Regions from separate parts of the Homo sapiens genome. Here region 2 is reported to be linked to region 1. The links are microRNA targets in miRTarBase. Many come from high-throughput screens and were not tested one by one. Region 1 holds a microRNA gene; the other region holds the end of a gene's coding sequence.
What was found. Region 1 holds the annotated microRNA hsa-miR-548ae-5p (AAAAGUAAUUGUGGUUUUUG, at 2,471-2,490, opposite strand). A microRNA usually pairs through its seed, bases 2 to 8, with sites in the 3' UTR of a target mRNA and lowers its output. Matches are read on the target gene's strand: a 7mer-m8 pairs with bases 2 to 8, a 7mer-A1 pairs with bases 2 to 7 and ends in A, and an 8mer does both.

Region 1 (5,180 bases):
GCTGCCTGAGGGCAGGGATTGTGTCTGGTTCAGCTAGTGCCTACTTGTATCCAAACCACCAGACTCATCCTTCTCATCTTTCCGACTTTTCTATTTTCTGTCAATGAATCTGGAGGTCACAGAGAGAAGAGATAGGGAGTGAGTGGTATGAATGGGAAAAGTTGGAGGGAAAAGGTGGTTTAAACAAGATTGGTCATTTGTTAAAGTTATTTTAATTGTGGAAGCTGAGTGACAAGTATATAGGGTTCACTATACCATTTTCTCTTCTTTTGTTATTTATTTGAAGTGTTTCATCGTATGTAATATATACATAGTTTACATGTAAACGTACGTACACATATATGTGTATATTATGTATATATGTATGCAGGAATAATAAAAAGCAGATTGTGTGTCTGTGTCATTAAAGGCAGGGGAAGAATAGGAAAAATGGAGTGACCTCTTAATGTATAATTAACTAGGCTTGTAGCTCTGATTGTATCATTAGTGCAACATAATATTCTGATGGTTCCAGGCTTATTGCTTCATCCTGTGTATATTTGGTAAGAAATTGTTGGGTTTTGAGGGGAGTCAAGAAATACCAATCCCTTTCCTCATCCAAATTATGAATTGATTATGAAGATCAGAAGAATAAGGAAGACAGAGAGTAAAGTCCATCATTTCTTACTGACATTGGTTAATTAGAAATGTGTTTTGGGTCCTGTTAGTTAAGTGGGCTTCCTAATACTCTACCCACAAATTGAAAGATTTACACACCCAGTCACAAACACAACTGGATATCCACCAACCTTCCTTGTAAGAACTTGCCCCTGTAAACATTGGGCTTAGAAATTCTAAGTAAAATGTGTGATTTTCTGTGAGCAACTGGATCTTAAAGAGGAAAAAGAAGGAAAGGGCCTGAGACATTTATGTCCAGTTTCTCTTTCCCTGCTCACCAATATCCCTGGAAGAGTGAGTGAGAGGGTGGAAGGGAAGAACTAAGGAATTTCCATCCACATAGAAGGAAAAATGAATGGGATATAAAAGTACCCTTATTAAATGACCAATGGAAGCTTTTACTTGGGAAGTTAAAAGAAAGGCAACATCACAATTCTAGCCATTGGTCTTGTTGTTAGAGTAGATGCCATATTTATTATTACTGTATTAGAAGACTCTTCTATTGACCCCATTAAAGGTGCCTTGAATTTTGCTTAACATCATATCTCAGTGTCATGGGGAAGCTTCATGGCCTTAAAAAGAGAAGATGCCCCAGAAGTATGCTTTCATTGAGGCTGGTGAGAAGCTGGATTTACTTTTTGGTTCAGGCACATTTATTAATAGTTGATGCTTTAGAGAAGGATTGTTTCTATTATATTGACTGTGGTTTGGGAAGAGTGTTTAAAAGTCCAACAGATATTCCTGGCATGAGAACTTTTACCATCTATCACTATTTTGGCATATATTTTCAAAAGTATTAATCATTTTTATATTTGCCTGTAAGATGCCTTCAAATATTCTGCAGCCAGCCCTGGTTAAAAAATTGAGGAAAACATTCTTTTTCATAGAGATGTTTGGCCATTACATGGTTATCTTGTCCTATAATGTCTCCCTGACTTTTAGTAACAGCTGTATTAATAATTTGTCACATCAAGAGTTATTCCCTTCCTTTGAACTCTTCCAGTACTATGTTTGTACCTGTTTTGTGATATTTACTTCATGGCTTGTCTTGTCCATACTGGGGTCTATTCTTACCAGTCCTATAAAATTACAGGTTTCTAAAGGTCTGGAATCATTTCTTGGTCAACTTTTTTATCATCACAGCACCTGTCATAGAGTAAGTACACAATAAATGTCTTTTGAATGCATGAATAATCACATGAAAAAAAATTGAATTTCCTGCCTTTTTTTGTCTAGATTGTTTGTTGTGTTTTTCTCTTACTATTATTCTTTCCTACACAAATCTGCCACTAAACGTTCTTCGCTTTCACATATTTTTTTCTGACATAATCTTTGTTGACTAAATGATCCTGCTCTATGTCTATATCCTCTAATCTTCAGATTTCTAGACTTAAAATATAACAATAAAGAGAAAAAAATTGCTCAGAGAAAATATAGTGATTTAAAATACTTTTTGTACTGTTTTAAAATACCTACTTTATCAAAATAATACATCCAAAGTCATTTTTTAAAAATCAAGTTGTATAGAAGAGCTTTTGGTAAAAAGAAATAATTGGCCCCACGTCTTTTGCTAGCCCTATTTTCTCTCCCTACTTGCAACCACTTTTAACAGTTTTTAGATCTTTTTATAGATACTGTCACATTTCTAAATATGGGGATATCATAATTAATTGGGTCTTCATGTGATCAATGAGGTGCTAGCTTACTTTGACTACCATCCATGATCTCTCCTTTACCTCCTACATATACAGATGTTATTTAATATTAGGTTGGTGTGAAAGTAATTGCAGTTTTTGCCATTACTTTTAAATGACAAAAACCACAATTACTTTTGCACAAACCTAATAATAATTGCCATTGTAACATTACATCGCATGCTTTAACCTTTTATTATCTCACCTATAAATAGTACCTCTTAACATTTTTAAGTTAAGTGCCCCTATCATTACTGTGAACCTCAAAAATCTTAGACAGGTCTTGGTTAATTTACAAAGTTTATTTTGTCAAGGTTGAGGATGTGCACCCATGACACAGCCTCAGGACGTCCTGACGACATGTGCCCTAAATGGTCAGAGCAGTTTGGTTTTATACGTTTTAGGGATACATGAGACATCAATCAACATACGTAAGATGAATATTGGTTCAGTCCAGAAAAGGCAGGACAACTTGAAGCAAAAGAAGGACAATTTGAAGTGGGGAGGGGGCCTTCCAGGTCATAGGTAGATAAGAGACATATGGTTGCATTCTTTTGAGTTTCTGATTAGCCTTTCCAAAGGAGGCAGTCACATATACATTTATCTCAGTGAGCAGAGGGGTGACTTTGAATAGAATGGGAGGCAGGTTTGCCTTAAGCAGTTCCCAGCTTGACTTTTCCCTTTAGCTTAGTGATTGTGGGGCTACGAGATTTATTTTCCCTTCACATTACTTTCACCTAAAGGCACCTATGAATACATATTGAATATTTGTGTCAATTGGGAAAAGACGCTGCTTCAGGTGGACTCAACTCATATGGGCATGGATGATAGGTTTTTGATCTTTGGTACAAAGAAAACATGTCTGATATGGTTTGGATATTTGTCCCTGCTGAAATCTCATGTTGAAATGTACTCCTCAAAGTTGGAGGTAGGGCCTTGAATTAGTCCATTCTCACATTGCTGTAAGGAAATACCAGAGACTGGGTGATTTATAAAGAAAAGAGTTTTAATCGACTCACAGTTCCACATGGCTGAGGAGGCCTCAGAAAACTTACAATCATGATGGAAGGCACCTCTTCTCAGGGCAGCAGGAGAGAGAATGAGTGCCAGCAGGGGAAATGCCAGCTACTTATAAAACCATCAGATCTTGTGAGAACTCACTCATCATGAGAATAGCATGAGGAAACCACCTCTGTGATTCAATTACCTCCCACCAGGTCCCTCCCATGACATGTGGGGATTATGGGGATTACAATTCAAGATGAAATTTGGGTGTGGACAAAGCCAAACCATATTAGGCCTGGTAGGAGGTGTTTGGTTCATAGAGGCAGACCTCTCATGGCTTGGTGCTCTCCTCATGATAGTGAGTGAGTTCTCATGAAACCTGGTTGCTTAAGTGTATGGCACCTGTATCTCCTCTCTCTCTTGCTCTCAGTTTTGCCATTTGAGATTCCTGCTCCCCCTTCACCTTCCACCATGATTGTAAACTTTCTGAGACCTCCCCAGAAGCAGATGTCAGTGCTATGTTTACTCTACAGGTTGCAGAACAGTGAGCCAATTAAACCTCTTTTCTTATAAATTACCCAGCCTCAGGTATTTCTATATAGAAATGAAAGAATGCCCTAATGCAGAAAGTTGCTATCAAGGAGTGAGATATTGCTATAAAAATACCTAAAAATATGGGCATCACTTTGGAACTGGGTAATGGATAGAAGTTGGAAGAGTTTGGATGGCTTAGGAGAAGACAGGAAGGTGAGGGAAAGTTTGAAACTTCTTAGAAACTGGTTAAATGGTTGTGACCAAAATGCTGATGGTGATATGAACAATGAAGTCCAGGCTGATGAAGTCTCAGATGGAAATTAGGAACTTATTGGGAACTGGAGCAAAAGTCATGCATGTCACGCCTTAGCAAAGAATTTTGTTGCATTGTCTTCATGCCCTGGGGGTCTGTGAAAATTTGAACTTTAGAGTGATGATTTATGGTGTCTGGTGGAAGAAATTTCTAAGCTGAAAAGTGTTAAAGATATAACCTGGCTGCTTCTCACAGTCTATGCTCAGATGCAGGAGCAAATAAATGATTTAAATTTGGAATTTATATGTAAACATGAAGCAGAACATAAAAGTTTGGAAAATTTGCAGCCTAGTCATGTGGCAAAGAAAGAAAAAGCTTTTTCAGGACATAAATTCAAGGAGGCTGTGATGCAACCCCTTACTTGTGATATTGGCATAACTAAAAGGGAGCCAAGTACGAATATCCAAGACCATGAGAAAAAGACCTCAAGGGCATTTCAGAGACCTTCATAGCATCCCCTTATATTACAGTCCCAGAGGTCTAGGAAGGAAGAATTGTTTATGGGCCAGGCCCAGGGCCCCACTGCCCTACACAGCCTTGGGACTCTGCTTTCCACATTCTGGCTAGCAGCTCCTGTTCCCACCAAGGTCAAAGGGACTCAGGTGCAGCTCAAGCTGCCATTTTGGAGAACACAGGCTGTAAGCCTTGGGGGTTTCCATGTGGTATTAACCCTGCAGCCATGCAGACTGGCAGAATGAAGGCTTGGCTTGGCTTCACACTTTATCAAATGTACTTCATTTTTTAACTTCTACATTCTCCTTTGAAAGCATCATCATTTGTGTTTTGTATAGCAGTTAAATGTAATGCAAAACATTTACATTACTACACCAATGTATCATTCACCATAGGAAAACCAATTATGACTATATATCCTTTCTTTTGTATAGCTTTTTGTTTCCCCAAAATTGCCATTTTTAATTTTTATTCTCTCCCTCTCTTCCTTTCTTCTTCTCATTTGGAGCTCTCTAGCCCTTGCT
Region 2 (5,000 bases), not on the chromosome of region 1:
TGGTGGGATCTCAGGTCACTGCAACCTCCGCCTCCTGGGTTCAAGCATTTCTCATCCCTCAGCCTCCTGGGTAGATGGGATTACAGGCGTTCGCCACTATACCTGGCTAATTTTCGTATTTTTAGTAGAGACGGGGTTTCATTATGTTGGCCAGGCTCGTTTCATATTCTACTCCATTTTTCCCAGTTATATTTCAAAATATTTCAGATACATGTAAATTAATAGGAAAAGAAGTTTAACTTTAGGAAGATAGTAATTTAATTAATGTCATTTTAGCTTTCAGTAATTAACATCTAAAAACCATAAAAAATACTTTTAAAAAAATTGAAATTAAACTGCATTTTTCATTTCCTTGACTCCAATTTGAATGGAAAGTGTGTGTAGAAGTATAGCCATCACATCTGCCCTACCATCCTTCTCCTGTCCCACCCTATCCTACAAAAGATCAGAGAAAGCACAAAAAAAGTTATAAAACAAAATTTATTATGCAATACTTTCTCATAATGAATTGCATCTCTTTGGTAAAAATAAACTTTATAAACATTTTAATAATCAGAGATTAGATACAAAAACTAAGTATTTGTAAGTTGTTTTTAATATGAGCAAAGATTGGCAACTGAGAAGTGGTTCACTTGTGACTGGTCATCTACTGGCAGTTATAACTCAAACCGGGACAATTTTTATGCTACATCAGAAAAGAGGATAAGGAAACAGTTTGATAACAAATTTGTTGAATCAGAAAGCATTCTTACACTTTCATTTAAAAATAAATAATAGTTACAATCAATTGGCAATTATACATTTTTATACACTATATGATGGCAACATAATACTTTAAAATTAAGCACTTAGTTTAATAAGAAATGTACAACGATTTAAAAAATAAGTTTTGACAATGGCACTGGCAGTTAGATGCAAAGAATATGCTTTAAGAAAAAAAATGGCAGGTATAACATTAAAATACTCGAATTCACCTTTCAATAAATATTTTTACTACATCATTAACATACTGAAGTAAACTTGGTTTAAATCAAAGCTTACACATTTCAAACTAAAAAAAAAAAAAAATACAAAAAAACACCTGTAAGATATATGTAAACCAGAAAGCCTCACAGTTTCTTAGATAAATGCTGTGATCTTCACAAAAGGGTGTTAAGTTGTTGTAGTATTTAAGACAATGGTCTTTACAGCTTTGTGAAGTATTCACATCTGTTGCTTAAATTGCTGGCAAAGGCCTCCTGGTCTACCAAGACATATACATTCCCTCCTTAACACATTCTCTAGTTTGACTTTGTGCTAAAGTATATTTAACTGAACATCTAGTATGAGCCCTTTACATAATGCCTCAGAAAGTAGCAAAAAGAAAAAAATATATATATACTAAACTTTACTATATACAAAGGAATCCAAGTTAAAAGAAGTCATGCTGGCTATGAGGACAGGAAAGGCTTGAAGGTGGAAAAAGGGAGGTGATCCACCTTTTCCATGAATTCAGGTAATCTGTTTTCTTTCTCTGAATTTGGAAAAGTAAAATAATAACTGATTTAGTAATATATTGCACAAAAAAACTTCAAAAATATATATTCAAGAAACAGTGATTCTGTTTGGGATGTGAAGATGAACAATTGTGTTGAATCAAAGCTTTTTACTAGGGATCTATTATAAACTGGAATCAGCTGCAACAAAACATATTCTTTTGACGTAAGGCAAATTATATGTTAGCTTATATCACAGTTTTTAGGATATGTTGGAAAACATGTAACCTCCTTGGAGTTTCTAAGTTGACTTTATTACAGGAAAATTTGTATATTATAGGGAATACAATTTCCAGGCCATAGGACTTGGAATGACTCTACTTAATTGTGTGGTTATTAGTCATGTTTCTCAAAACACCTGAGGAATGAGAGCATACTCTCAGTGGAAGTAGTAAATGGAGGACCATAATTTAAAAGGTTCTTCCCTTGAAAATAACTGACTTGGTATGTTAGCAAGTGGAAGGTGATGCATTAAATTATGTTTAAGAAACTGTAAAATATTGTGTAACCTCTCCCTGTTAGCTTTCAGTGCACAAGTGTTTATCATCCTTGCTAGTGATGAATATAACTTAAACATTTAAATTCGTGGGAAGAGTGAATAAAAAGGAAGAGAAAAATCAAAAGATGTAAAGAATTACTGTTACATACATCAAGACAAAATAACTTTGAAGATCCCTATTAGAGCTGGAACTAACTCTGCTTCTCTTTCCTTTCCTTATAAAGAGTAATTATCTAATGGACAAAAACCAGGTAGCACATTTGTGATACAGAATTTCAGCAGAACAAAATAAACTGGTGCCAGATCACTGAAACACTGTTCCTAAGGTCTATACAGAGGCTATGGTAAATAACTTAAAAATAGTTATTAAGATGATGTGTATAATCTATTATTTATACTGTGGTTAAAGCATTTTTGGGTTTTTGGTGTTTTATTCACTGTCTATAATAAAAGTTAACTTGGTTTAGCCATTTTCTGTAGATGTGATCGATCTAAAAAAAAAACCCAAATACCTCATCCTGCATGCTTAAGGGTTTTCATTATTAACAAATTTAAAAATTACTATATTTTGACAGCACCAATTCATTAATGTGGCTATCCAGGTTAAATTAAATTTAACATGGAAACAGAACAGAGAACATTAATACTGTTATCCCTGACTTAAAGTCTTGTCAATTGAAAAAAAAGTTTTTAAAATCATTTTTCTCATTTGACAGTTTTGCCAAAATAAAAATTAAAAGTTAAAATTTGTCTCTTAAAAAATGCTTTATAATCACAGAAACAGCTGAAAGCAAATCAACATCATGACCTTGACTGTGCATATGTGTATATGTATGTGTACATATGTATACAATCTATCAGAATAATGAAAACAAGGTCATTGTCTATGACTTAGGATGTAGCATAAGACTGAACTTTCAGAAAGTTGCTTCCACCATTGTAAAAAAAAGATACAATGAATTAGTTTAGCATCCTATTGTTTCTGAATAATCTAATCAAATTATACAAATGATACTATGAAAAACTGTCTCATATAAGCAGACTGTTCAAATAGTTAAGATACTTAGTCAAAGCACTTTTGGAGTAGTACCAGAAAATCTTTTTCTCATGGATCAATGGCACTATAGGTTGTTACACTGCCTCCTCAAAAAGGTGTATTGCATAAGATCAAATTTTATATGAATTTTGAAATTCATGAAGGTATTGTGTCTGTAAAATTGCATTAAATCTATTAAGATTTAATTTGGTATACTTATGAATTTAATTCATACAAAGCTTGGACAGAAGTTTTTTCCTAAATGACCTACTTTATGTATGATAACATGCCATCAGTACTCAAAATGTTTCATTTCACTCCATTCCGATTATAAGATTCTCATAATACAGTACACATGGCAGGCAAATGAAAGATTCTCTTATTACAAGTGTGTCAAAATGGGTGTACTCCATAACACACTTAATTGGCTATATCCTCTCACTGGATAACTTATACTCAACAAAGGCAGCTAGTGGCTAAAACTTAATGTTTGCAAAGCACTTTGGGAAAGAATAAAAGGCCCCAATAAATGCTATGCAGGATCTCTGAAGTAAAAACACTTCAAAGCTACCATTCTAATAGGAATTGGGAGTGTTCTTGGATGAAATGACACCACAAAATTGTCTTTTCTAAGTCTTAGAACTCTTTGTTGTATTCTCTACCTACGTAACCAAAAGAAACTTTCTAAACATCAGGATGTTTTTCAATTTATGTTTGTCTTTGCTCACACGACAACAAAAAAAAAATTAGAAACAAATTAAGACAAAGTAAAAAAATTTCAATCTTATGTTACCGGATTGCGTGTCAGGAGAGAAGTATATGAAAAATACATCAGCAAAATTTTTAGCTGGTTCAGTAACTATAGTTACAGATTGGAAAAGAAAATGAAAAAAATTTATCGAGTTGCCAAATCTTACATTCTGACATATTAACAGAAGAAAGGATTTTTGTCCCACAAGTTTAAGACAGAGGCTGGGGATTTTCTTATATAAAAATTTTCAAATCTTGGACACATTTATCACAAAAATTATGCTTTTAGGACTTCACATCATGTATTTCTGATCAGGCATGATCCTAACAGCAATTGTTTAATAAAAATTTTAAAAACCAAAAACCAAAAATGTTTTGAAAGAAATAAGTAATTAGTATCCCTTCCCTACCCTAAAACTAATGAAGTCCATTATGGCTTTGATATCCCTTGTAAAGAATTAAGTGAAAGAGTATTGCCACACTTTAAGTATTTCTATTTTTTCCGTTGCTTTTGATTTTGTGTCTTTGCAGTACTTATTAGGGAACCTAAACATGTACGAATTCCAGCAAGGTGGAGCAGAGATCCAGCTGCCTCTTTGAGCTCCTCATCAATTTCTTGACATGTCTGTTTTCGCATCTTTTTGCCTGACTGCCCTTTTTCAGAGATTTTTGCACAAGGCTGTGATGCATAGCCACTGTCTCCAAGAGGATCATCTTCATAATCAACGTCTGTATCTTCTTCACTGTGAAATCCTTCACTGCCATCACTTCCCACGTGACTATTCTTTGGGATAAATTCATATACCTCATCCACAGAAGACAGGGAAGACACGCTAGACCTGGATGCACAACGCTGTGCTGCCATGCTACTTGCACTGTAATTGTGATCTTCTTTTGGATCAATGCTGGTGGCTAAAGAATCACTCTCTTGTAATCGTACAGCACTGGGATGATGAAATGCATTGCCGTAACTCCTCTTTTTTTGCAATGCTGTTTTAAGAGGAAGAGGCTTCTCACCTGTGGAAAATAAAAGTTCCATCAATAGGTCAAATGTGTTTGGTTGCAAAAACAGACCAATTTTAAACTACTACATTACTCTTGAGCAACAAATGTTTTAGATTCATGATGCTTTGTAGATTTTTTATTTTTTTTTACCCAGATCACATCATTTTGCAAGCAT

Region 2: miRTarBase lists FOXN2 as a target of hsa-miR-548ae-5p. Seed matches in the 3' UTR shown: 7mer-m8 at 3,835-3,841, 7mer-m8 at 1,525-1,531 and 7mer-A1 at 1,298-1,304.

What each region holds. Positions count from the first base shown.
Region 1 is chr5:58,527,615-58,532,794 of GRCh38, forward strand. It overlaps MIR548AE2 (microRNA 548ae-2), which reads right to left and starts at 2,495; the gene lies at 2,429-2,495. RefSeq lists enhancers at 2,692-3,193, 3,215-3,823.
Region 2 is chr2:48,374,757-48,379,756 of GRCh38, reverse strand. It overlaps FOXN2 (forkhead box N2), which reads right to left. Exons shown (of 7, transcript NM_002158.4): 7 at 462-4,837. The coding sequence ends at 4,314. Among named protein-coding and RNA genes, the nearest start is that of FOXN2, 63 kb to the right of the region's middle.